4 linked regions of the Homo sapiens genome follow. The protein of the gene in region 3 interacts with the protein of the main gene of each other region in a biochemical or structural test. Each region holds a gene or a part of one and is shown on either strand. Other genes may lie near its edges. The genes, in order: MAP4K1, ABL1, CRKL and BCAR1.

Region 1 (6,841 bases), on a different chromosome or scaffold from region 3:
CCTGTAGTCCCAGCTACTCTGGAGACTGAGGTGGAGAATCGCTTGAGCCAGGAGGCTGTAGTGAGCTGTGATTGTCGCCACTGCACTCCAGCCTGGGCAACAGAGCAACACCCTGTCTAAAAATATATATATATATATGTCTCAAGGGTTTGAAGATGTGACCAATGAACTCTTTCTATCCCCAATCCTAGGAGTCTTATGTCTGGAAGATGTACCAAGAGAGATGTTGGGATTTCTTCCCAGCTGGTGATTGTTTCCGTAAGCAGTATGAGGACCAGCTTAGCTGACACACCCCCAGCTGGCCCTCCACCCCCACCTCAAGTGCCTTATTCTCACAGCAAGCCCCTTAGTCCCCAAGCCCCTCCCCCTAAGGCAGCTGGGGGAGAGGTGACCTAGTACTGGAAAATAAATCTGTGCTACGCCCCCCAGCATCACTGTGTTGGCCTGCTGAAATTTTGGAGGAGTGGACATCCAGGAATTGTTTCCCCCAAGAAAAACAAGATGACAGCAGAGGCTAAAGTCATGTTTATTGGGAGATGAGGACATGCCATGACCACTAGTGTGTCTATGGGGGAGGGGGTGCAAGGACTAGTTCCTGACACCCCCCTAGGGACTCATTCCTGGATGTAGAGGTTGCTGGGAGCAGTAGGATCATCCACTGGGCGTGTCTCCACCACTACAGGCCTGTGGAAGGAAGAGATAAGTCAGTTCATTTATTCATTCATATGTTCATTGATTCATTAATTCACAAAGTAGTTAATAGAGACTGTGCCAGCCCCATGCTGAACTATAGCAGTGAATGGGCAGACACGGTCCCTGCCCTTAGGAAGCTTGCATTCTAGAGAAGGAGATCAACATGAATCAGTGAATTACATGAGTGCAAAAAAGCATGGCATGTCTGGCAGGGAAACCTAACCCAGGAGGTCAGCCCAGACTCCCCAGAGAATGGATGGTGCAGCCTGAAGGGGGGTTAGGAGGGAACTTGGTGAAAGGGCAAGGAAGAGTGTTCTGGCTGGGGAGAACAGCCTGTGCAAAGGATTTGAGGTGGGAGAAAGGCTGGGACTTGGCTGGAGATGTCATGGCCTTGTGGGCTGTGGCCAGGATTGAGTCTTTATCTTGAGGCCATGGGAGGATTTTAAGCAGGGAGACAGTGACACGATCAGATTTGGATTTAAAGTGACCCTTCTGGCATGTCAAAAGGACACAGGGGCTACTTAAAGTGGTTCCCACTGGCTAAATTTAAGACCATTTGTGCCTCAAAATAAATAATGACAAGGCCGGGCATGGTGGCTCATGCTTGTAATCCCAGCACTTTGGGAGGCCAAGGGGGGCAGATCACTTGAGGTCAGGAGTTCAAGACCAGCCTGGCCAATATGGTGAATCCCATCTCTACTAAAACTACAAAAATTATCCAGGTCCATCCTGGCTAACACGGTGAAACCCCATCTCTACTAAAAATACAAAAAAAAATTAGCCAGGTGTGGTGGCAGGCACTATAGTCCCAGCTACTCGGGAGGCTGAGGCAGGAGAATGGCGTGAACCTGGGAGCCAGAGCTTGCAGTGAGCCGAGATAGCGCCAGTGCACTCCAGCCTGGGCGACAGAGCGAGCCTCTGTCTCAAAAAAAAAAAAAAAAATTTATCCAGGCATGGTGGTGCACGCCTGTAATCCCAGCTATTCGGGAGGCTGAGGCAGGAGGATCGATTGAACCTGGGAGGCAGAGGTTGCAGTGAGCTGAGATCACACCACTGCACTCCAGCCTGGGTGACAGAGCGAGACTCCATCTCATAAATAAATAAATAAATAATGACAGTAATAGACTATAACCCACAGAATAAAAATCCATGAGACCATGCTGGTATAAAGAAAGAAGAATGGAGAAGACACAGCTCTTCTTTAGAGTAGAATGCCAACTAACACACGCAGAAGGAAACATAGAATCAGAAAATCACCATTTATTGTTAGTAGCCACCTAACAATAATAGATTCAGGGAAAAATCAATTGATTCTAAAACTAGTGGGCAGGCCAGGTGCGTTGGCTCAAACCTGTAATCCCAGCTACTCGGGAGGCTGAGGCAGGAGAATTGCTTGAACCTGGGAGGAGGAGGTTGCAGTGAGGCGAGATCGTGCCACTGCACTCCAGCCTGGGGGACAGAGTGAGACTCTGACTCAAAACAACAACAAAAGACAAACAAAAAACAATAAAACTAGTGGGTGAAAATCTGATGAGAAACAACGTATTTACAGACTATTTACCTCGTCTCAGTGAATCTCCCCAAAAGATACTTCTTTTTTTTTTTTTGAGACAGAGTTCACTCTTGTTGCCCAGGCTGGAGTGCAATGGCGCGATCTCGGCTCACTGCAACCTCCGCCTCCCGGGTTCAAGCGCTTCTCCTGCCTCAGCCTCCCGAGTAGCTGGGATTACAGGCATGCAACACCATGCCCGGCTAATTTTGTATTTTTAGTAGAGACAGGGTTTCTCCACATTGGTCAGGCTGGTCTCAAACTCCCGACCTCAGGTGATCCACCTGCCTCGGCCTCCCAAAGTGCTGGGATTACAGGCGTGAGCCACCGCGCCCGACCGGTGGGATACTTCTTATTACAAAGAAAAACAGAGGCTGGGTGCGGTGACCCCTGCCTATAAGCCCAGCACTTTGGGAAGCCTACACAGGTGAATCTCTTGAGTCCAGGAGTTCCAGACCAGGCTAAGTAACATGGCGAAACCCTGTCTGTACAAAAAATACGAAAATAAGCCAGGTGTAGTGGTACGCGCCTGTCATCCCAGCTACCCGGGAGGTTGAGGTGGGAGGACTGATTGAACCCAGGAGGTCGAGGCTGCAGTGAGCCATGATCGCGTCACTGCACTCCAGCCAGGGTGACAGAGAGAGAATCTATCTTTAAAAAAAAAGAAAAAGGGAGAAAAAAGCAACTTCACAGTGGAGAGAACTGGCTGATTCTACCTTAACCAAATGACCGAAGTTAATATCACCAGTAATGGGACAAACTAGCATTGTGTACTTCCTGAAATGATGCACTGAGAAAGACATCTTTCTGCAGTATTCCTGCCCAAAATTCAGAACGTGGAAACCTCAAACACAGTTAAGGGACATTTTAGAAAACAAATTTCCTTTAATTTTTAAAAAGGTCAAAGCTCCTTTAAGACAAAAGAAGTTTTAATTATTTTTTCCGGCTTAATTATAAAGAAACATGGCTCCTAAGTGCCACCTATGATCTTGGACCAGAAAAAAAAAAAAAAAAAAAAAATATATATATATATATATATATATATATATATATATATATATAATCACGGGCGTCACTAGGACAACGGGTGAAATTTTTTGTTGTTGTTGTTGTTGTTTTCTGAGACAGAGTCTCGCTCTGTCACCCAGGCTGGAGTGCAGTGGCGTAATCTCGGCTCACTGCAACCTCCACCTCTCCGATTCAAGTGATTCTCCTGCCTCAGCCTCCCAGCTGGGATTACAGGCACGTGCCACCACACCCAGCTAATTTTTGTATTTTTACTAGAGGTGGGGTTTCTCCATGTTGGCCAGGCCCATCTCCAACTCCTGACCTCAGGTAATCTGCCCACTTCAGCCTCCCAAAGTGCTGGGATGACAGGCGTGAGCCACCACACCTGGCCAACTGGTGAAATTGAGTAGGGGTATGAATTAGAAGGTTGTGATGTTTCAGTGTTGTTTTCTTGATTTTGACAGCTGTGCTGTGGTTTGTAACATTATGTCCTTGCTTTGATTCAGGAAACATACACTGAAGTATTTTAGGGGTAAATGGGCATCACGTCTGCAATTCATTCCCAAATATTCATTAAAAAATCACACACACACACACACACACACACACACACACACATATACTTGTATGTGTGGTGTGTGCGCATAAGAAAGAGAAGAGGCCGGGCATGGTGGCACATGCCTGTAATCCCAGCTACTCGGGAGGCTGAGGCAGGAGGAGTGCTTGAACCCAGGAGTGGGAGGTTGTGGTGAGCTGAGATTATGCCATTGCACTCCAGCCTGGGCAACAAGAGCGAAACTCTGTCTCAAGAAAAGAAAAAAAAAAGAATAATAAGGCAAATGCGGTTAAAAAGATTAACATCTGGCCAGGTACAGTGGCTCACGCCTGTAATCCCAGCACTTTGGGAGGCAGAGGTGGGTGGATCACCTGAGGTCAAGAGTTCGAGACCAGCCTAACCACCATGATGAAAGCCCACATCTACTAAAAAAACAAAAAAATTAGCTGGGCGTGGTGGTGTGCAACTGTAGTCCCAGCTACTCAGGAGGTTGAGACAGGAGACTTGCCTGAACCCGGGAGGCAGAGGTTGCAGTGAGTGGAGATCCACTGCACTCCAGCCTGGGCCACACAGCAAGACTCCATCTCAAAAAAAAAAAAAAAAAAAGATCTGGTTAATCTGGATAAAAGGGATTTTTGCAACTTCTCTGGGAGTGTGAGTTTTAAATTATGTCAAAATAGTTAAAATAGTTATTTTTAATAGTTAAAAATTTTTAATAAGATAAAAATCTAAAATAAAAATGCAGCCAGGGCTGGGCACGGTGGCTCATGCCTGTAGTCCCAGCACTTTGGGAGGCCGAGGCGGGCAGATCACCTGAGATCAGGGGTTCAAGAGCAGCCTGGACAACATGGCGAAAGCCTGTCTCTACTAAAAATACAAAAATTAGCCGGGCACAGTGGCACATGCCTGTAATCCCAGTTACTCGGGAGGCTGAGGCAGGAGAATCGCGTGAACCCAGTGGGTGGAGGTTGTGGTGAGCTGAAATCACGCCACCGCATTCCAGGCTGGGCAACAGAGCAAGAATCCGTCTCAAAAAAAAAAAAAAAATGCAGCCAGGTGTGGTGGCTCATGCCAGTAATCCTAACATTTTGGGAGGCCAAGGTAGGAAGATTGCTTGAGGCCAGCAGTTCAAGGACAGCCAGGGCAACATGGCAAGACCCCGTCTCTACAAAAAAATTTTAAAAATTAGCCAGTTGTGGTGGTGTATGCCTGTGGACCTAGCTACTTGGGAGGCTGAGGTGGGAGGATCAGTTGAGCTCAGAAGGTCAAGACTGCAGTGAGCTGTGTGTGTAACACTGCACTTCAGCCTGCGCAACAGAATGAGACCTTGTCTCAAAAATGAAATAAAATTAAGGCCAGGTGCAGTGGCTCACTCCTGTAATCCCAGAACTTTGGGAGGCCAAGGCAGCTGGATCACCTGAGGTCAGTAGTTTGAGACCAGCCTGGCTAACAAGGCGAAACCCCGTCTCTACTAAAAATACAAAAAATAGCCAAATGTGGTGGTACACACCTGTAAACCCAGCTACTTGGGAGGCTGAAGCATGAGAATCACTTGAACCTGGGAGGCAGAGGTTGCAGTGAGCTGAGATTGTGCCACTGCACTCCAGCCTGGGCAACACAGCGAGACTCTGTGTCAAAAATAAATTTTAAAAAAATTTTATAAATAAAAGAATTAAAATTAAAAAATAAAAGGATTGGCCAGGTGCAGTGGCTCATGCCTATAATCCCAGCACTTTGGGAGGCCGAGGCAGGTGGATCACCGAGGTCAGGAGTTCGAGACCAGCCTGGCCAACATGGTGAAATGCCATCTCTACTAAAAAATATAGTATTAGCCGGGTGTGGTGGCACATGCCTGTAATCCCAGCTACTTGGGAGGCTGAGGCAAGAGAATCGCTTGAACCTGGGAGGCAGAGGTTGCAGTGAACCAAGATCACACCATTGCACTCCAGCCTGGGCAACAAAAGCAAAACTCCATCTCAATAAATAAATAAATAAATAAATAAATAAAAGAATTGCTGGGCATGGTGGCACATGCCGGTAGTTCCAGATACTCAGGAAGCTGAGGTGGGTGGATCACTTGAGCCTGGGAGGTCAAGGCTGCAGTGAGCCGTGGTCGTGCCATTGCACTCCAGCCTTTGAGTACAGTGAGAAACAAAACAAAAAGAGAGAACGCCCCCGTGGCTGCAGTGCAGAGAACAGACTCTAGGGAGCAGGGATGGAAGCAGGGTGACCAGGTGAGACACTGTCCAGGCTAGAGATACCTTGCTGGGGACACCTCAGAATGCTCTCTTCACATCAGAAGCCCCCTCCCAGGTCCTTCTGCACCCCACCCCACAACATACCTGGGGGAGCCAAGCAGACGGAAAGTGAGGGTAGGGTCTCTCAGCTCCTGTAGCAGCTAGGGAAAAAAAGTGTGTGTCTCAGTGCCTGGAAGATACCTCCACTGTCACTACGAACATGGCTCCCTTAAAGACAGCAAGGAGCTGGGCACGGTGGCTCACGCCTGTAATCCCAGCACTTTGGGAGGCCGAAGTGGGTGGATCACCTGAGGTCAGGAGTTCGAGACCAGCCTGGCCAACATGGCAAAACCTCGTCTCTACTAAAAATACAAAAATTAGCTAGGCATGGTGGTGCGCGCCTATAGTCCCAGCTACTCAGGATCTGAGGCAGAAGAATCACTTGAACCCGGGAGGCAGAAATTGCATTGAGCTGAGATTGCGCCACTGGGCGTGCCACTGGAGCCGAGATCTCCAGCTGAGATAATTTTTGTATTTCTACTGAAAATACAAAAATTAGCCAGCTGTGGTGGCGCATGCCTGTAGTCCCAGCTACTTGTGAGGGTGAGGCACGAGAATCGCTTGAACCTGGGTGGCAGAGGTTGCAATGAGCCAAGATTGTGCCACTAACACTCCAGTCTGGGGAACAGAGCGAGACTCCATTTCAAAAAGAGGGAAGGAACTGAGTGAGCAAAAATAAATAAATAAAAATACTAAAGTGTAAGGGCAAAGTCTGACACAGTATTCTGTGAGATAAAC
Region 2 (7,028 bases), on a different chromosome or scaffold from region 3:
CAGAGACGAGATCTCAGCTCACTGCAACCTCCGCCTCCCAGACTCAAGCGATTCTCCTACCTCAGCCTCCTGAGTAGCTGGGACTAGTAGCTGGAACTACAGGCGCCCGCCACCATGCCCGGCTAGTTTTTTCTATTTTAGTAGTGACGGGGTTTCACCGTGTTGCCCAGGTTGGTTTTGAACTCCTGAGCTCAGGCTCAGGCAATCTGCCTGCCTCAGCCTCCCAATGTTCTAGGGTTACAGGCATGAGCTACTGTGCCTGGCCCAGTTAGTGATTTTTAAATTGTAGTTCCTTAAATGAGTATTTTGGATTTCACTCCACAATGTTCTTCAACTGTAAGATCTACTTGAGGTTATTTGATTTGCTGGTTTGCAAGAACTCGTCTACACGTTGTCTTTATCACAAAGAAATTCTGGAGCGTTTGAGCCCTGTTCAAAAAAAAAAGGCAAGAAGAAACTTCAGGAACAAATAACCTATTTGACCCTGTAATGAATAATATTCACACATTTTCTAATTTAAGAGCTGTTGATTGATTTCCAACTTTTAGAATCTGTTTCAGACAAAACATGGAAGTTTAGTAACAGTTTTTTCTATTCTGTAATAATAATTGCCACAAGGTTAAAAAAAAAAATTTACAGAAGAACATATTTGAGGGTGGTCGTGGGGGCAAGAAAGCTGGAAGGACGGGTGGGGTGTGTTAATAGCCTTGTCTTGTGAAGTAAGTCCTCAGAGACGCTGTCCTAGTTGGAAGAACAGGCAGTGAAGGTGTGCGTCTGTTACGGAGAATAGGACTCCAGTGATCTAGCTGGTACTTAGAGAGGTGGGGGTGATCACCAAAAAAACAGCTCTGCCTCTGGGAGCGGAGAGGACTGGGATAGAAAGTATTTGTCTTTCATTTTAAGCCCTTCTGTACGATTTGACTTTTCTTTTTTTTTTTTTTTTTTTTTTTGAGATGGAGTCTCACTCTGTCACCCAGGCTGGAGTACAGTGGCACGATCTTGGCTCACTGCAACCTCCGCCTCCCAGGTTCAAGCAATTCTCCTGCCTCAGCCTCCCAAGTAGCTGGGACTACAGGCACCTGCCACCATGCCCGGCTGATTTTTGTATTTGTAGTAAAGACAGGATTTCACTGTGTTGGTCAGGTTGGTCTTGAACTCCTGACCTCATGATCCACCCCCGGCTTTTTTTTTTGACACGGAGTTTCTCGTTACCCAGGCTGGAGTGCAGTGGCGCAATCTCTGCTCACTGAGACCTCCACCTCCTGGGTTCAAGCGATTCTCCTGCCTCAGCCTCCTGAGTAGCTGGGACTACAGGTGTGCGTCACCATGCCCGGCTAATTTTTGTATGTCTAATGGAGACAGGGTTTCACCATGTTGGTCAAGTTGGTCTCAAACTCCTGAACTCAGGTGATCCACCCACCTTGGCCTCCCAAAGTGCTGGGATTACGGGCGTGAGCCACCATGCCCGGCTAAAGCAAGAAATTTTCATTGCATATTTTAAGCAAAGGCAAATGCATATGTGGATAGACTGTTTTAATTTGACTAAAGTCATATTGAATCCATGAATTTTAGAAGCTCAAACTATTGGGGAACAATAATTACCACCTTGGAGTGAAAATACTTAATTTCCACAAGATTTAGTAAAGGAAGAGTTTTTTAAAAACCACCTTAATGATAATAGTATGTACAGATGTTAAGAAATGAAATAGGAATGTGTAATGTTGGAAACACAAATATTTTTGCTTCTGAGAATAAAACTAATTTTTTCTCCCAATTTTCTCTTCCTTTTTCTTTTTTCTGTTCCCCCCTTTCTCTTCCAGAAGCCCTTCAGCGGCCAGTAGCATCTGACTTTGAGCCTCAGGGTCTGAGTGAAGCCGCTCGTTGGAACTCCAAGGAAAACCTTCTCGCTGGACCCAGTGAAAATGACCCCAACCTTTTCGTTGCACTGTATGATTTTGTGGCCAGTGGAGATAACACTCTAAGCATAACTAAAGGTAAAAGGGTTGTGGGCAGCTAGTGGTGGTTGCAGGAGATAGAAATCTGGGAATTGCGGTTTGACCTACCACCCTTTGCTCGTTAAAGGAGCAGCTTTGAAATCTGGACTGCAGGGATATCCAAAACAACAACTGCATGTTTCTAAGGGAGTCGACTCTCCTTAGAGGAGTTCTTGTACAATAGCCCTGGGCAAAAACAGAACTTGCCCTATTTTTTATACTGAAAAGGACAGCTGGACAAAATACTGAACGCAATTTTTCCCCTAAGAAAAAGCATTATTTCCCTAAAATGTCTTATATTAGGAACAGAGCACTTGAATAAACATAATTGATTTATAAAAACTGAGGCTATACACTTACCTATCTGTTCAGTACAAACAGGAAGCTTCAAATGTAAACGTGAATTCTCATACACTTATAAATGCATATCTTTATGTGGACTTGTTAAAATGAAATTGGTATTTAGGAATTTGGAGATTTTTAGTAGTTACACAAGAATCAATGAAAAAGAACGAAGCTGGTTTCCAAAGCTGATATGTCTGATTTGGTTCCTTTCTTCTCAGGTGAAAAGCTCCGGGTCTTAGGCTATAATCACAATGGGGAATGGTGTGAAGCCCAAACCAAAAATGGCCAAGGCTGGGTCCCAAGCAACTACATCACGCCAGTCAACAGTCTGGAGAAACACTCCTGGTACCATGGGCCTGTGTCCCGCAATGCCGCTGAGTATCTGCTGAGCAGCGGGATCAATGGCAGCTTCTTGGTGCGTGAGAGTGAGAGCAGTCCTGGCCAGAGGTCCATCTCGCTGAGATACGAAGGGAGGGTGTACCATTACAGGATCAACACTGCTTCTGATGGCAAGGTAGGGGACCCTTGGCAGGGGGCGCTGATGGGCCCAGGGCAGGGGAACCAGAGGTCCTGCTGTCGGATTGATAAATTATTGCAAGAAAGCTCAACCAAGAAGATGTTTAAAGAATCTTTCAGGTGGGAGTCATTCCATTAGCCTTATGAAGACCCTTTATTGAGGATCCGTTCTGTGATATTACAAGTTCCTGGGACTGGTATGATTCTCTTATTGTCTTGCTAGAGTTTTGTTGTTAGCAAGTTACTTAAAATAGGAGGAATATCTGTTGGGTTTTGGACACATTTTTTACAATAAGATTCTTCCTTTAAAAAAAATATTTTATAATGATAGAAATCATCCCCAACGAGAAAAATTCAAATAATAGATAACCTTTCTTAGAGCGAAAGACCACTTTACTATCCCCTCCCCCACAGACGCCTGGCACGTGGGCTTCTTCCTGCGGATGAACACATTCATGGAGAGGTGTGTGGACATACGTGCATACACGCATGCAGTTTTCAGTGAAAACCGGGATCAAACCCACAGCTTACCAAACCCAAAGTGTGGTGTTGTAAGGGAGGTGGCCTATATGATTTTGTGGTCTTCATATAAATAATCCTTAAGAGTCCATAAAGAGAAGGGAGGAGTTAACATTGACTGAGGTATTGCTATAATACCTGCATCTTTGCATTAAAGAAAGGGAGGCATAAAGAGATCTTGCCCGATGTCAACCTAGTGAGTCACTGATGGAATAGGCTTGGATCCCACAGTTTATTCTACTGCACCAGGCTGTAGTTGAGGTACAGTGTTGATAGGTGGTCCCGATGGTGTATGTTTGTTTGTTTGTTTGTTTTTGAGATGGAGTCTTGCCCTGTCACCCAGGCTGGAGTACAGTGGTGCGATCTTGGCTCACTGCAACCTCTGCTTCCCATGCTCAAGTGATCCTCCCACCTTAGCCTTCCGAGTAGTTGGGACCACAGGCGCACACCACCATGCCCAGCTGTTTTTTGTTTGTTTATTTGTTTTGAGATGGCATTTTCGCTCTCATTGCCCAAGCTGGAGTGCAATGGTGCGTTCTCGGCTTACTGCAACCTCCACCTCCCGGGTTCAAGCATTTCTCCTGCCTCAGCCTTCCAGGTAGCTGGGATTACAGGCATGCACCACCACACCCAGCTAATTTTGTATTTTTAGTAGAGACAGGGTTTCACCATGTTGGTCAGGCTGGTCTCAAACTCCTGACCTCAGGTGATCCACCTGCCTCAGCATCCCAAAGTGCTGGGATTACAGGCGTGAGCCACCACGCCTGGCCGTTTTTGTATTTCCAGTAGAGACAGGGTCTCGCCATGTCGCCCAGGCTAGTCTCAAACTATTGAGCTCAAGCAATCTGCCCTCCTCGGCCTCCCAAAATGCTGGGATTACAGGCACGAGCCACTGTGCCCAGCCTATATTTTTTAAATAGTATGTAATGCATGCATATGGTTAAAAAAAATCAAAAGAACAAAATGAATTACAGTAAAAAGTAATCGTCTCCTAATTCACTTTTCCTGCCCAGAGGCAAGCACTGGTACTAGTTCCTTCTAGAGTTACCTGGACACAGATGGATGGTATATAGATGTTTATGTGGATGTTTATATTCAAAAAGGCACGCAAATGATACATGCACGCGAATGCATCATGCTTCTCCCGTGTGATAATACACCTTCGAGATTGTTTTATGGCAACAGGTTTAGAGCTGCCTCATTCTTACCAGTGACTGTGTACCGTGGATGGACTGTCACTTATTTCAGTAGTCCCCTGCTGGTTGACTTTTAGGTTGTTTCCAATCTTTAGTTATTGTAAATAATGCTGATATGAGGTGGCTTTCAAACCTTTTCAAAAATCTGGTTCTGCTGTAAGAAAAACTCATTTTACACCACCACCCAGCCCTCACAATATAACAAAAGTTTCATGAAGTCTTACCTACCCTTACTGTATGTAACGCACTCTGATAGTTTGTATTTCATTCTGTTCTATTTCATTTTTTAAAAATTCTGGTTGTAATCCACTAAATTTATTTCATAGACTGACTAGTGGCCCATGGCCTGGTTTGAAAATGCGTTGCACGTGCTTCTTTATGTGGGTGTAAGTGTGTGCAGATAAGTTGCCAGAACTGACTGAAGGTTATGTGCATCACCAGGTCACCCTCTATAGAAATTGTACAAATTTGTTCTCCCACAAACAATCCATGAAAGGGCTTGTTTCCCCTTAACCCACACCAACAGTTTATTATTAGACATGTAAAAACACCTTTGTCACTCTGACTGGTAAAGAATGGCATCTCATTATGTTGAATATCCATGTGGCATATTTTGGGTCATCTTTATGCCATTTAGTAAATTCATCTTTTTCCTACATGTTAGAAATATACCAAGTGTATATGTGTATCTAGGCCTGTTGACCTCTCTGTTCTCTTCCATTGGTCTGTCTATCCGTATGCCAGTACCAAACTTGTAATTGCTATGGCTTCATACCATGTTGTGGTATCTGATAGGCTAGTCCCCACTTACCTTTTTAACTTTTTTTTTTTTTGGCTGTCTTCACACATTCACTTGTACCATATGAACATACATATACTTCCTTTTTAATGTTCTTATTTTTCTTCACATCCCAAAGTCTTCTGGCTGAAATCCTATTGCCCATATCTGATGCTTTCCACCACTGCAGAATTCTTTAGTACCAACACTGCAGTGTGCGTGACGGACAAAAGAGCCTGTTATCCCTGTGTGACTAGACGTGGGCCTGTCAGCTTGCTTTTTGGGTTATTGTTCTTATCCCAGAGGTGGAGCTGCGTTCTTCCATTCTGAGGGACGTACTTCAGGACATTGGGCCCTTTGAAAGAGCCTTCAGACCACAAGGGTACCTTTCTAGTGAATCAGAACACCAGGGTGCACCGCCCATGGGGGGTGATTTTCTGGAGCAGACAGCTTGCTTCCCATGTGTGCTATTTATCCAAGGCAAGTCATGCTGCACCGAGATAGTCACTTGAGGTTTGCACCGAACAGGATAATGGTTTCTTTTCCCTAGAGCTGTTTAATCAGCAACCTTGGAACAGATGCAGGCAGGCATGATCTAGTGTGACAGCTCATTAGCTAGGGGTTGATCTAAAATACTGTTCAAATGGGCAAGGAAAGGCCTGCGTATGGGATATGTGATTTGCAGAATTTGAGATTCATCCAAAGAGGGAGAATCTGCCTAAGATGCCTCTGTCTAAAAGCTAGTATGTGCCAGGTGGGTTTGTTTCATTCCAGGTAGAGCACAGGGAGCTTATGTGACCAGGCAGTGTCCACCATTGGGCAACACATCACACTTCCCTTGGCGTCTTGCCTCCTCCCTCCCCGTCTGGCACAGACTCTCCCATCAGCCGTTTGGGCACCTGGGGACTTCTGAGCCCACAGCGTCATCCAGCAGACCGTCTGCGGAGGTTCCTTCCTGTGAGGGCCGCACTCGAGGGGGTGTATTGGGTGGGATCGTATCACTGGAATGAGTGAACATCGTTAGAGGGAGCTCCCACAGCTATGCGTGTGACCGTGTGGCTCGCCGCTGAAAAATGCTGCTCACATAGCAGAACTTCGATGCAATCCTTTTTGGATTTCTAAGGGGAAATTTTAAGACCGATAGGAGGAATAGGCTGGGGTTGAATAAGTTTGGTTCTTATTTTTAAATTAGCTCATCTTTAGAAAACAACTGAATTTAGAAGATTCTTCTGTAAGGCCCCAAAGGATTTCTTTCTGCCTCCCCGCTCTTGGCTCTTATTTGTGTCTCTCCTCGTGTTCTGAGCTTTTCAGCAGCCCTTGTGGGTCATCAGCCGAGGACCATCAGCTCGGGGCCCAGAGCTGGGGACTGGGAGTTATGAGCTGGACTCTTGAAGGGGCCAATACTAAACCGAGCCGTTGCCATTTCCTAGGAGCCTTGACAGGCTCAAACATCTCTGGGTACCCGGGGATTTGACTGTCATTGTTCTGATCCTTTCCCAAAGTTGTAACCCTCTGTTGACATAGCGGAATTGAAGATTGATTTTTCTTCACCACCTTCTGCCTAAAGTTCTTAGTTCTGAATGTGTCCACACCTCATTGACTTCTATGAGATGCCCCTGTCACGTTCCTCGATTCCTTCTAGTCCTTAATAGAGTCTTTCCTTTTCTTGAAAGAAATTTG
Region 3 (5,869 bases):
CAAAGTTCATCAGGAGAACCACCTACAGCCAAGAACAGAAAAGGATTCAAGAAAGCCGCACAGATATCATGCCCTGACCTGCAATGAGGCTGCTCACTTCCCATGACTTCTGCTTGATACCATTCAACCCTGGTTAGCTCATGCTGAAGAAATATTTACTAGAAGCCTCAGATATGGGTGCCTAGAAGGAAAAAGATCCAAGTTCTCTGTGGTGGTGCAACCTGTGGGAACTATTGCCTCATGCTCAGAAGGCCAAGCACTAGGCTCCCATACAATACCTACAAGACAGACACTCTGGGAGGCAGATTTCTCTTTTGGAGGGAGACCCCAGGTGCTCTCCTCTGGGTGCCCGAGTGTTGGAATGGGCGGATGCCAAGACTTCATTCTAGCTCTTGGTCAGCAGCAGCACTAAGGGTCTCTGAGAAGCATCAGAGATTTCACCACTGATGAACTGCCAGGAGGCTAGTGGGGGCGGACTGAGGAGACACTGAAACACCGAAGCTGCCGCCACCACCGGCTGATGCAAGTTTTATTGAGACAATATACAAACAGGCCATGGAAACAAGGGTTTTGATGCTGGGACCAGTAACGTAAAACGGAATACAAAAATAAAAAGGCACTAATCTGTTAAGAAAAGACACTCGATGTATTCTAAGAATATAAGTCATTTAATACTGTTAATTTTATAGCACAAAATAAAACAAGCTATGATCCCCAAAAATAATTTTAAAAGCTTACACAGAAAATATTATTGCCTGAAGTTTATGATCTTTAAGTTACAGGTCAAAAGAGTTTTATGTTGTTGTTGTTGTTGTTGTTGTTGTTTTAAAACACACAGTGAAGACCGTCTAAGAAGCAAGGCCACTGTTCCTCCTGTAGGGACAACGATCCTGTCTCAGAGACCTGTCCTTCTGCTCCTTTAGAAAACAGAACCAGCACAGCGTCCACACCGACAGCAGTTACTAGGGGCATAGTCCTCCGGTCGCAGAGGGTGGAGTTGAGGCAGAGCTCAGTGGTGTCCACAGAAAGCATTAGTCTTAGGTACTGTGTTAAAACAATCAAGAATTCATTCATGTTTAAGAGGTTAATAACCATAATATTAAAGGATTAATTATAAACACCTGGCAAAAAACCACATCATCCCTTTTCAAAAATAAAATGTTCATATTCCTCTGAGCAAACATCACAAGAGCAGTGGCCATCTGCCTCAGGCCTGCCTTGTCTGTAAACAGCTGTAAAGGAAAGCTAGCACAGCGCCAGGGACACATGAGCTCCCAGGAGGGCACAGCTGTCCTTCCCTTTCAGCTTTCCAAACATGAGCACAGAAGGTGTCTAGTCTGGGTGACCAAAGTCCTCAAACGGCAGCCGGTCAACACATCGTCTTCCTCGTTAACCATGTCATCAGGTGGTTCCACACAGCACAGACATGGCTGACTCCTGTACCGCAGGTCCTTCCCGGGATACACAAGTTTTTAACCAGTCAATGCCCTCTAGTACGTAATTTGTTTCCTTCCCAGGTGAAAAACCATAGTGAGTTAATTTAACATCCAAATATTTCTTTAAACATGGTAGAGCAGAGCAAGTAGCAGTTATGAACACCCACCCTCTGGGTCAGATGTGCACTGCTCTATGGAGCACAACAGTCTTCCCAGACCAGTGGGGAACCCAGGCACGAAGCTGAGCTGAGGCAGCAGTGCTGCATTCATATGTTTAGTGTGAAAAACAGAGTATCCCTGCCTCATTAAAAAAACTGACAAGGTTGTAAGTCCGTTAAGTTTTACTAGTTTTGGCACATATCTGGAGTGCAGAACTCAAGCTCGCCTTGTTTTGAGCTCTGAATCTCCTGGCAGCCCTGGATGCCATTTTCATGGGCTGAAGTAACGAGCTGATTAATTATAAAACCAAACCACAGGTATACTCTAGGTATATCTGATTCTGAAGTGCGCCACACAAGGTGAGTCGGGGTATTGGTCAGTAGACAGGGCTGAAAGGAAACCTTGCTTTCCAAAATGGCCAGACTTCTTGCACTCTGAGTCAACTGCTGTAATTCAAAGGTGTCAAGCCCTTCAGCTAAATCTGGTTGAAAAAGGCCTAAGGGTCGTGCCCTCCTTGAACAAGGCACACATTCCTCCCTCTGTTGGAAACTCCACTCATGGCTCAACATGGGCCGGGATGAACCACGTCACTGGCCAAAGGGCAAACACTGTTTCTAGGCAGAGTCTGGGGACTCTTGTGATATGTCTGCCACTTGTGGGTGCTACGCCAGGCCTGAACCCAAAATAAGCCAACCTGACACACCTAACCAGAAGCGGCAACTGCCGCAGACCGTGCAGAGCAGGAGGCGGTCACCGTTCTCACTGGCAAGGAAGGGCTAATCTCCAAGGCTTTTAGAGGAAAACCACAGATGGGAAGCCATGGCGATAGTTTTCCCAAATGACCATTAATTCTGTCTCAGGAACACTCTCAAGATTCATGAATACAGCAGTTATCTGCCTGATGGAATACTGATTTAAAGAAAAATTGAAAAATGGCTGTTCTGCTGGTTCTGTCTCCAGAATGCATTGCTCTAAATCTCAAAACCTAGGAACCTCCAGACAGGGCCACAGTCACAGCAGATGATCAGTAAATGAAAGCTACTCAGTAGGCTGCTGCTACATTTCTAGGTCTGCTGTGTTCACTATGAGCTGAGGCTTTTCTTTACCAGGGTCCACAAGGGAGAGCAGACTGAATTGCACAGGGTTCCCAGAATTCTAGTCTGCTATGTGCAGCAGATGATGGATGAACCACACGTATATACCAGTTGGCTTGTATGAACAGGCCTCTTTTAGCTAACAGGGAAATGCTTTAACATCAATACACTGATAAGTGGTTAATGATAAACTAGTTAATGGTCTCCCTAGTCACTAAAACACTAAGACATCAAATACATTAACGAATTTCCAGAGCTTGCATTTCCTTTGCTTGGGAGCATCACAGACACTTACTTAGACTGTGAGACCAGTATGAGCAGCACCAACTTTCTCTGGCAGCCTGACGAGATTGGGCCTGGGCACGGAGGTCTGGGCTTCAGTGAGTGGAGTTGAACGATTCATTAATGAGTCCAACGATTCTATGAACAACGCCACTTTTTAAGGAAGTTTAAGTCTGAACCTTAAAGGGGTACATTCACTGAAAAGCTGAACAGAAAACTGGCCAAGTGCCCTCCAACCCACTGCTCTTATCACTGGCAAAACAAGGTAAGCAAAGGTTTCCCTAAAGTACCCCCAACTCTGATGCTTTTTAAAACAAAGTAATCCAAGGGGCTGTGCACATAGCATGGCACACCACAACTGCATTATTTTGTGTGTTGTCTGCTACATGGCAAAACAAGGTACTACTGGCAACCAAGACAATAAAGGCCTCTGCTTCAGGGTTGTTCTTTTCAGATTCCTTTAGTTACAGCAGCTTCAGTTTAGAAGCTCAGAGGCATGAGTCATTCCTTGCACTATCATAAAAACCCAACCTGCTACTTAACCTGTTTAGAACACACAAGTCTAGGCCAGGCGCGGCGGCTCACGGCTGTAATCCCAGCACGTTGGGAGGCTGAAGGCGGGTGGATCACCTGAAGTCAGGAGTTTGAGACCAGCCTGGTCAACATGATGAAACCCCGTCTCTACTAAAAATACAAAAATTAGCTGGGCGTGGTGTGCGCGCCTGCAGTCCCAGCTACTTGGGAGGCTGAGGCAGGAGAATCGCTTGAACTCAGGAGGCGGAGACTGCAGGAAGGCGAGATTGCGCCACTGCACTCCAGCCTGGGTGATGCAGCGAGACACCGTCTCAAAAAAACAAAACAAAACAAACAAAACAAAACAAAAAAAAACCCCCACACAAGTCTAATTAATTAGTTTTCCAAAACCAAACCAAAACAAAAGAAAAAAAAAAGCCAGATTTTGGAGTTTTAGAACAGAATTCTCTCTTCCTTAAGGTTCACTTCCTGTTGTCCAAAGAAAAGCAAGATGGCAGCTAAGCCACTGCTTTGTGGAACAGCAAACATGCAGTATCTCGCCATGGCCTCAAGCTTTCTCTGGTGAACACAACAGAATCAGTCCCATGTACAAACGGGCAGCAATGAGAAGGAAGACCCTTTCCATGTCAACTTCTCTCCACTTGTGTGCTTCCATCAGTATTTCCAGTTTATGATCCAAAAGAACTCTAAAATCGGCTACTCTTTGACAATACGACTATGATACAAACATCAGGAGGCAGCCGCTGTGTGCATTCCAAATGTGTGTGCGACTGCCAGTCTGCAGAAAGCTGGACTTCGGCAATGCAGTGTGACTTGCCTATGAGAGAAAATGCTTTCCCACTTCAAAGGAGACTAGGACAGGCAGAACAACAAAGCAGCAGGAAACAGGGCAACAGCAATCACTCGTTTTCATCTGGGTTTTGAGGGTCAAAGATTTTGACGTGCGTAAAGGGGAAAAGCCCTTTGCGCCCGTTCACTTCGCCTTCCCACTGGCCATTTATATTCATCCTTGTGACTTTCACGATGTCACCAACCTGTATGGATGAAGAAGACAAAGTTAGCATTTCTCTGCAACAAGAAAAAGACAGTTTACATTAAATCACAAACACTACCTTATCCAAAGGGCCCATACATTATTATTTAGACACAGGGTCTCACTCTGTTAGCCATGCTGGAGTGTAGTGGTGAGATCCCTGCTCAATGTAACCTCTAACGCCTGGGCTCAAGTGATCCTTCCACCTCCACCTCTTGAATAGCTGTGACTACAGGCGTGCACCACCATGCACATTATTTTTTAATTTTTTATAGACGGGGTCTGTCGCCCAGGCTGGAATGCAGTGGCCCGATTACAGCTCATTGTAACCTTGAACTCCTGGGATTACTTGAGGTCAGGAGTTCGAGACCAGCCTGGGCAACATGGTGAAACCTCATCTCTTCTAAAAAATAGAAAAATTAGCCGGGTGTGGTGGTACATGACTGCAGTCCCAACTACTCAGGAGGCTGAAGTGAGAGGATGGCTTGAGCCCATGAGGCTGAGGCTGCAGTGAGCCGTGATAGTGCCACGGCACCCCAGACTGGGCAACCGAGTGAGACCCTGTCTCAAAAAAACAAAAATCAAAACACACACACACACAGAAACAGCTTTTGAGCACAAAGCAGCTCCCCACCCCACACCAACCTTCTATTTTGGCCACTAACCCCAACAGGATAGAAATGAACACATGATTCTGAGAATGGTTAAAGTCAAATTACACAAAAAGGTGTATTTTAAAAAAAGACCTTCAGGTGGTAGTCATTGTAGACAGGGTGTTACTCTGTTCAGCAGAGCACTAATCTAAGGTTCTGTATTGTGTACTTAGGTCCATAAAAACGCTACTTGAATATAAGACCCACCTAAGATCTAAGACAATAAGAAATAAGCTTTTGTCTGCTTAAACACATATAGAACCAGGCATCGTGGTACATGCCTCTAGTTCCAGGTCCTTGGCAGACTGAGGTGGGAGGACTGCTTGAGCCCAGGAGTTTGAGACCAGCCGGCGCAACGCAGCAAGACTACATCTCAAAATAAAAACAGGCATAAGGTTTTTATGGCACAGTCCAATGGTCCGTGCCATGAACTTTGGAGCATGCAGGACACCAAACAAATGTCCTGGTTCTGCCACTTTTAGAAACTACATGACTGTAGCAAACTGCTTAAGTTCTCCAAGTCTCAGTTTCCTTCCAACTTTGAAAGGTTCTTGCAGTAATTAAATGATTGTTACTTGAGTAGAGATTCCTGAATAGAACCCATCCCCCAACCCCACGCCCCCTCTAATGATCATACCCTTTGGATGCACGAAGGGAAGAGCTGGAATTAGCACTGAG
Region 4 (7,028 bases), on a different chromosome or scaffold from region 3:
TGGTGGCCCATGTCCATGGAGTCCCCCACCCGCCAACGACCTCCGGCCATGCCTCCTGGGTACCAGGCCACCCATGGGCGGGGGTGGGGGTAACTCCCAGCTGACTCGCTGCCCAGCTGGCACCAATGAGGTCTCCACCTCAGCCCTGGGCTGAGTGTCTAGTGCTGACTCCTTCCTACAGGCAGGTGAGCTTGGGAGGCAGGGGCCCTGTGGACTTGGGAAGCGGGCTCAGGGTCTGGAGGCCAGAGGTCTTGTCCCCAGGCCCAGCATCCCATCAGCAAGAGCCCAGGAGGCTCTCAGGGCAGTCCTCCTCTAGCAATCTCAGGGGCAGCGTCCTCCCAGGAGTCACATCCAGATCACCATACGCACCCGCTGGCCCCTAGCATGTTCCATAAGTGGAGAGGGGTTGGCCTGTGGAGGCAGGGGCGGCCAGAAGATGTGCCGGAACCCCATCTAGAGGCTGACACGTAAACCCAGATGGCACAGGGGAGCCTGAGCATGAAGTGGCTGGCCTCTCCCTTGCGGGGGCCCAGCAACTGCCGACCCCATGTGCCAAGCCCCGCCTGCCCACTGGAACGCCTCAACAGGCTGCTCCCTGTGGTTGGTGACACCACCACTCGGGTCGGCTTGGCTGAGGCCAGCGGAGCATCTCCCCTCTGGGTCCATTCACATCCATCTTCCCCGGACAAATGAACACCCCCCAAACACTCACTTCCCACTTTGACCCCAGACCAAACACACAGCCACTCCTGGAATGCCGGTGATTGAGGGTGGCTGGACCCTTCTGTGCCCACAAACCAGGGCCTGGGCTATACCTGTGTGGCTGCACAACTGTGCCAGGACAGCCTTACCTTTGCCGGGGGCTTCGTGCCCTCCCAGCTGCGTGTGTCCATGGACGGGGGGACCTGGTAGATGTCATGCCCCATCCCGGCAGAAGGTGGCACCTGGTAAATATCCTGGGCAGGGCCTCCAGGCCCTGGGGGCACCTGGTACAGGTCTGTGGCCGGGCTGGGAAACGGGTGATGGGGTGTCTGCTTCGAGAAGGTGGATGTCTGCTTGGCTGGGGGAGACTGGAACTGAGGGCTGGGACCCGGGACTTGGTAGAGGCCTTGCTGAGCCTTGCTGGGAGTGGGCACCAGGTAGACGCTGTCTGGCTGGGGCTGGTAGGTGTTGGGGAGCATGGGCGTGTACTGGGAGGCCGGAGGCGCTGGGGCATGGAGGCCAGGCTGAGGCTGGGCCGGGGTGGCGGGAGGGCCGGGGCCAGGCCCTGCTGGCTTCTTATCATACATGCCCACCAAGATCTTGAGGCGGTTCCCAGGCACGATGCCCTGGCGCCCATGCAGCGAGCAGAGCCACCAGCCGTCCAGGCCCTGCGTGTCCTGCTCCAGCACCGTCATGATGTCACCCTTGCGGAAGGAGAGCTCATCCGGGGACTCGGCCACATTGTCATAGAGCGCTTTGGCCAGCACGTTCTGGGGAGAGAGGACACAGGTGTGAGAACAGAAGGATGTGCATGGGGCGTCAGGGGCTCCCCAGCTCCTGCCCTGCTCTGGGGAGGTGCCCAGCTTTGATACTAGGAAAAGAACTCAGTGGAGTTTGGCGAGATCATTGTGCCTTTGCCTCCACTGTCCCCACCTGTTCCCCAGCAGAAAGGCCCAGCTGATCCTGGCCTTTCTTTCAACTGCACCTGTATAGCACCTCAAAATCCTCTTGACCACTGTCACCACCAAAACTCCAGGGATGACCCTCAAGATATCCCTAAAAGCCCCACCCAAGGCCACTCTGCTACCTGGACCAACACAAGGAGAGCGGCAGTAATCACGACAAAGCTGCCAAGTTAAAACAAATAGCAAATGGTTCTCTCTCGAGGTGCACGAAAATAATCTGACAAAAAGAACAGCTTCTTAGGATAAAAAAATGAACAACAATAAGACAGAGCTTCCTTAACAAAGTCTATCTACCCCAAATCCAAAAAGTCAGTAATTAATTTAGAAACTTCAAACACCTTCCCCAAGGCTGGGAAAGAAACAGGAGGCACACCCTCCCTGTCCTGGCCCCGTCGCCCTCAGCAAACCCTTGCAGAGCCGGGTACGTGCTCCATGTGGCCCAGGAGCCAAGCAGTCCGAGAGGGACTTGGAGGAGGCTGTGGGATCAGAGGCATGAGTGCCGTGGCGAGGGCAGGGGCGGAGCCTCGCTGGGACACTAGAGCCCAGGCAGGGAGGCCTCGCAGTTTCCCACCACACACTCATGCATCCTCGCCCCTGCCGCTGCTGCCCCATCGAGGTGCCAGGCGCAGGATGGGCCCAGAGAGACAGAGGATCCCTGGCTGGAGGGTGTGGGCGGTTGCAGCAAAAGGCAGGTGTGAGGGAGGCACGGGGTGAGACAAGGCCAGGGCTGCGGCCCCTCCTAGGGCAGCAGAGGGCTGCATGGGTTCCACAGGGGCCCCAGACTTCACACACAGGGAAGCCGGGTGTGAGAACAGTGCCAGGCTGGCTGGACAGTGACCGGCACTGGGCTCCAGCCACCCCACCAGCCTGGCCTCAGCTCTGGGCTGCCCTGCAAGGTCCCTCCTCAGAGTCTCCTGGCGTCTTAGATGTGCAGCCTGGTCGAGACTCTGACTCGGAAATGGGACCTGGGTTCTGGCCAGCCAGTAGCTGTGTGACCATCCCCACTTGGGCCCAAGTCCCACTTTCTGGACTCCATCTGCAAGGAGTGAAACAAGGAAGAAAGGGCCACGCCCCCTTGGGCAGAAACAGGAAGCAGGAGCCTGTGCCTTGGGGCAGAGGAGTGGGGGTGAGGCCTCTTTCAAGTCCCTAGGGCCCACCCTCCTCCCCTATATGAGCAGGGGCTGGACAGTGCCCCTCTGAGCGCCATCTCCCTGGCCGGCATCAGAGGGCGATGGCATACCAGGCAGCGGCCTGGGTAGGCAGTAGTTGCCCCAGGTCCCAGGATCAGACATTCAGACCCCATGGTTCACTTGCCCTGGGTGGACATCATCAGCAGGGAGCCCATTTCTCCAGAGCAGCTAGGAGCCTCCAGTCCCTAAAAGGGCCAGAGGCTGGAGTGTGGAGAGCCAGGAGGAGCAAGGCCCAAGGGAGGGGCCAGGGGGCAGCTAGGAGAGGGCAGGCCCAGGTGGAGTCATATTGGAGCCAAGGTGAGCACAAGGGCAGAGGCCCTGGATGGCTGCAACACTGTCCACACCATGATTACAACAAAATGAAAAAGGCACTCAAGTGAAAAGCACATCTCAAGAAAATGTCCTGTGAAACGTAAAGACAAGAGAGGGTCAGGAAGACACCAGAGATGTCTGAGACAATGGAGATAGTTTCTCTTCCTGTTTTTCAGGAATGAGTGTTTCTTGCTTTGGGGCTGAAAAACTACACAAAAAGAAAAAAAAAGAAAACGGTGGACTATGTCCCAGGCTCTGAGGCAGGACGGGACAGGCAGTGCGGCAGGTCTAGGGGCCAGAGCCCCACAGAGGAGCGGGAGGGCGGGGGCTGTCCTGCAGCCCACCGGGCTCAGGGCCCCCATCCCAGGCGGCCAGCAAGACAAGCATTTCCCAAATATGGTCTGCAGCCTGCCTCTGGGAATCACAGCCCATCGGGGGCGGGCCACCCTTCCCCAGTGACCCTACACACCACAGAGCTGCCCCTCCGGGTCCCCCAGCCCCTGCCCTGGTGACCACAGGAAGTGCCAGCAGAGTGAGTCACAGGAAAATTCCCCTCCAGCCAAGTCAGAGAAGGTGGGGGTTTAGACAGAGGGGACCGCCCCGCGAAGGCCCCTCACCTCCTAGGAGGGTGGCCCAGGAAAGGCTGGCAGAGGCCCCATCAGGCAGGGCCAGGCACTCAGAGAGGCTGAGGGAGCACAGGCAGGGAGGCCGGGGGCTCTGTGGAGGGAAGGGCCCTGCAGGGAGGGAAAGCCCGGCCCAGGTGAGCGGCTGGGGCCTCTGGCCTCACAGCCCAGCCCTGCCAGGCATGAGCTCACTGATCGGCCACAGCCCAGTCTGGGGCCGCTGAAGCCAGGCTGGGAAGCATCTCACAGGCTGGGCACGTGGCACCAGGCGCCTGGCACCAGGAGCTTCCCCGCCTGCGTCAGCTGGTGTGCCCCCGCCCAGCCTGAGCTCTGGACGCTGCTGGTACACAACCGACCACTCCAGCTGGCCAGGGCCCCCGCCTCTCCGGGCCTCTCTGCCTCCTGTTCTGTTCCCTAAGGACATGCACTCCTTCTTCCTCACTAGGCAGACTCAGACCTGGGCCCGGCTGTGGGACTTTGGGCAAATCCCTTAGCCTCTCTGAGCATCTAGATCCTCTCTGCTGGATGACAGCCCTCATTTCATAGGATTGTTCTTTTTTTTTTTTTTTTTTTTTTTTTTTTTGAGACTGGGTTCTGCTCTATTGCCCAGTAGCGCGATCATGGCTCTCACTGCAACAACCTCCCAGGCTCAAGTGATCCTCCCACCTCAGCCACCTCCCACCTTAGCCTCCCAAGTAGCTAGGACTACAGGCATACACCACCACGCCCAGCTAATTTTGTGTAGAGATGGGTTCTCCTTATGTTGCCCAGGGTGGTCTCAAACTCTTGGGCTCAAGTGATCCTCCAGCTTCGGACTCCCAAAGTGCTGGGATTACAGGCGTGAGCCACTGTGCCCAGCGCGCATTGTTCTTTTAACAAAAGATTCGCCTGGCCCCTGCTTTGGCTGGGCTCCGCAGAGATAGCGCAGGCCTAGTGGACAAGGCCTCTGTCTGAACCGGGCCTATACTGTAGTGGGACAGAAAGACACCAAACAATTTGCTTTCACGGGGAAGAAAGTGGGGTGCCAAAAATAATGTGGGAGAAGGCCTTTGCATACAGGGTCAGAGACGGCCTCCCCAAAGAGATGACATTCCACAGGATTCCTGTCTGAGAAGAGCATGGGGCAGAGGAAGGGCCTCAGCCAGGGGGCTGGAGCAGGGAGGCAGGCTGTGACCCTGGAGCGGCAAAAGGACTCACACCGCAGACTCCATGGATGATGCGTGCACAGCTCAGTGAACGTCATCCGCACAACCAGCTTCCCCACGGCCAGATAAGCCCAGACGAGCAAAGCACACACCACCCCAAGCATTCCTGCTCTGGACATGCTCGCAGGCCCCCCAGCAGCCTCCCCCGGAACCCCTGCCATGCTTCAAACTGGAGGAGAGGCCAGCCTCCCCAAGCCTACTTTCCTGGCCTCCCGCACTGCTGGGCCTAGGGCATGACCCAAGCTGGGCCAGTCAGGTGCTCCTGCCCAAGTTTTCAAGGGACACAACTGTGACCTCAGAAGGGGTGCAAAGCCAGTCCAGGTGGACACTGTCAGCCACCTGTGTCCAAGGCGCAGTGGAGGCTGCTGCCTGACTCACTCATTCTCTGGTACCCTACTCCTGCCGCACCCTACTCCCACTTCAGAACATGCTGGACTATCATCCCCTCCAGGAAGGCTCCTCCTGGGACACCTTCTCCCCTCTGCCCCCACCTCACAGTACTGCCCAGCATATCTTGACATAGCCCAATTCACACCCCTGCACCCCAGGCACCCAGGACAGGAGGACAAGTCTACCTCCTTCAGAAGGGTAACTCCAGGGCACGTGCACCAGAGGAACCCAGGAAGGCCTTTGGGGGCTTGCTCATCCCAAAGGGCAGGGCCAGAGGAGGAGAGCCCCAGCCTGATGCCAGCACTCCCTAAACAATATCCCAGCTGTTGCACATAGGACTGACAGGACTGCCCCACACGCTCTGCCTGGCTCTGAGAATGGCCCTCATTGTGTCCCCGGGGCCCGCCTGGGCACCATATCCACCCGGGCTGGGCAGGCAGGCCCTGAGAAGCACAGCGGCTGGGACCAGGGCTGCGGGTGACACACGTCAGGGAGAGCTGCAGCCGTCGGATGGGTGTTGGGGTCTCCTCATTGGCTCTGCCAGCTGCCTTGGGAGCCCTGGACGTGCTGTGGCTGTCCCCAAACTCCTTCTCTGGGTCAGGCGGAAGCTGGTGTCGGCGAGTGGTAAGGGGAGATGCTGCTGCTCCAAGGAGCCTTCCCTGGTTGCCTGAAGGGACAACCCAGGAGTTCTCAGGAGCAGGGCCAGCCCAAACCAACTGCAGAGAACACTGCAGGTATCACTGCTGACCAAAACCCTCTCTGCCAGGCCTGGCTCATATCTGGCCTGCACCCTTTCACCCAGCAAATATGACCTCAGCACCCGCAAGCCAGCACAAGGTGGGAGCTGGGAGAAAATGGCAAGAACTCCTGTTCTCTGCCCAAGACCCCAGGGTTGGGGGCAGACAAGGAAATGGGTAATAGTGCCACACTTGTCACTAAGTTCACAATAATAAGAACAGCACAGTTCCTCCCTGCGGGAGGCAGAGCTCTTTCCCACACAGCCACCAGCTCATTTAACCCTCAAAACAACCCCATAAGACACGATTACCTCCATCTTACTAGACAGGAAAACCAAGGCTCAGAAGCTCCCTGACAGCCCAGGGTCACTGAGTCCAGAAGCAGCAGAGGCCGACCCCAGGCTGAGACACGGTGGAGCTGGGTGGCTCCACTTTATCTCCACCGAGGGGTGACGCCTGGGTTCGTGGAAACCACCAGAGGAAATGTCACAGGCCTTTCCCACCCCTCCTGTCCACGCCCCCAACGCACACATGCACCCGCCCCAGCACAGAGCCTCGCACATAGCAGGCACTTGGGAAACACTGACTTCTTTCATACCCAGAACCATCACAAACTTGGGCCAAGTTTATTTCTGGGGCATTCTATTTGCTTGTCCCAAAGAGCCTCCGTGGCCAACGGATGCAGGCCCAATAAGCATGCGCCCAACTGGCCATCCGCACCCGGGACCCACCTGGAGGGGTCCTGATCACCCCACTTGGTCCTGGCCTCAGGCTCTGAGGGGCACCTCCTCTTCCCTCCCCCATGTCCCCATCCTGGGTGGAACTCCAGGACCTGCCAGCCTTAGTGGCAACTTCCCCTAATACTCCCACAACAACAGGGTGGCCAGGGTCTGGGCTCAAGTCC

Evidence for each region.
Region 1: the proteins of CRKL (region 3) and MAP4K1 form a complex in vitro, tested with the Homo sapiens proteins (2 studies listed by BioGRID).
Region 2: the proteins of CRKL (region 3) and ABL1 form a complex in vitro, tested with the Homo sapiens proteins (4 studies listed by BioGRID and IntAct, with this or other methods).
Region 4: the proteins of CRKL (region 3) and BCAR1 interact in a test that uses a peptide from one of them, tested with the Homo sapiens proteins (2 studies listed by BioGRID, with this or other methods).

What each region holds. Positions count from the first base shown.
Region 1 is NC_000019.10:38,587,134-38,593,974, forward strand, and holds the end of MAP4K1 (mitogen-activated protein kinase kinase kinase kinase 1), read right to left. Parts: intron 6,205-6,841; coding exon 6,149-6,204; intron 2,143-6,148; coding exon of another isoform or gene 2,045-2,142; intron 685-2,044; coding exon 615-684; 3' UTR 508-614; downstream 1-507. Other genes in the region: RYR1 (ryanodine receptor 1), read left to right, coding at 192-287. UniProt on the Homo sapiens protein: Serine/threonine-protein kinase, which plays a role in the response to environmental stress. Appears to act upstream of the JUN N-terminal pathway.
Region 2 is NC_000009.12:130,852,244-130,859,271, forward strand, and holds part of ABL1 (tyrosine-protein kinase ABL1), read left to right. Parts: intron 1-1,820; coding exon 1,821-1,994; intron 1,995-2,557; coding exon 2,558-2,853; intron 2,854-7,028. UniProt on the Homo sapiens protein: Non-receptor tyrosine-protein kinase that plays a role in many key processes linked to cell growth and survival such as cytoskeleton remodeling in response to extracellular stimuli, cell motility and adhesion, receptor endocytosis, autophagy, DNA damage response and apoptosis.
Region 3 is NC_000022.11:20,948,381-20,954,249, reverse strand, and holds the end of CRKL (crk-like protein), read right to left. Parts: intron 4,540-5,869; coding exon 4,405-4,539; 3' UTR 503-4,404; downstream 1-502. UniProt on the Homo sapiens protein: May mediate the transduction of intracellular signals.
Region 4 is NC_000016.10:75,241,619-75,248,646, forward strand, and holds part of BCAR1 (breast cancer anti-estrogen resistance protein 1), read right to left. Parts: intron 6,534-7,028; exon of another isoform or gene 6,442-6,533; coding exon of another isoform or gene 6,436-6,441; intron 1,473-6,435; coding exon 852-1,472; intron 1-851. UniProt on the Homo sapiens protein: Docking protein which plays a central coordinating role for tyrosine kinase-based signaling related to cell adhesion. Implicated in induction of cell migration and cell branching. Involved in the BCAR3-mediated inhibition of TGFB signaling.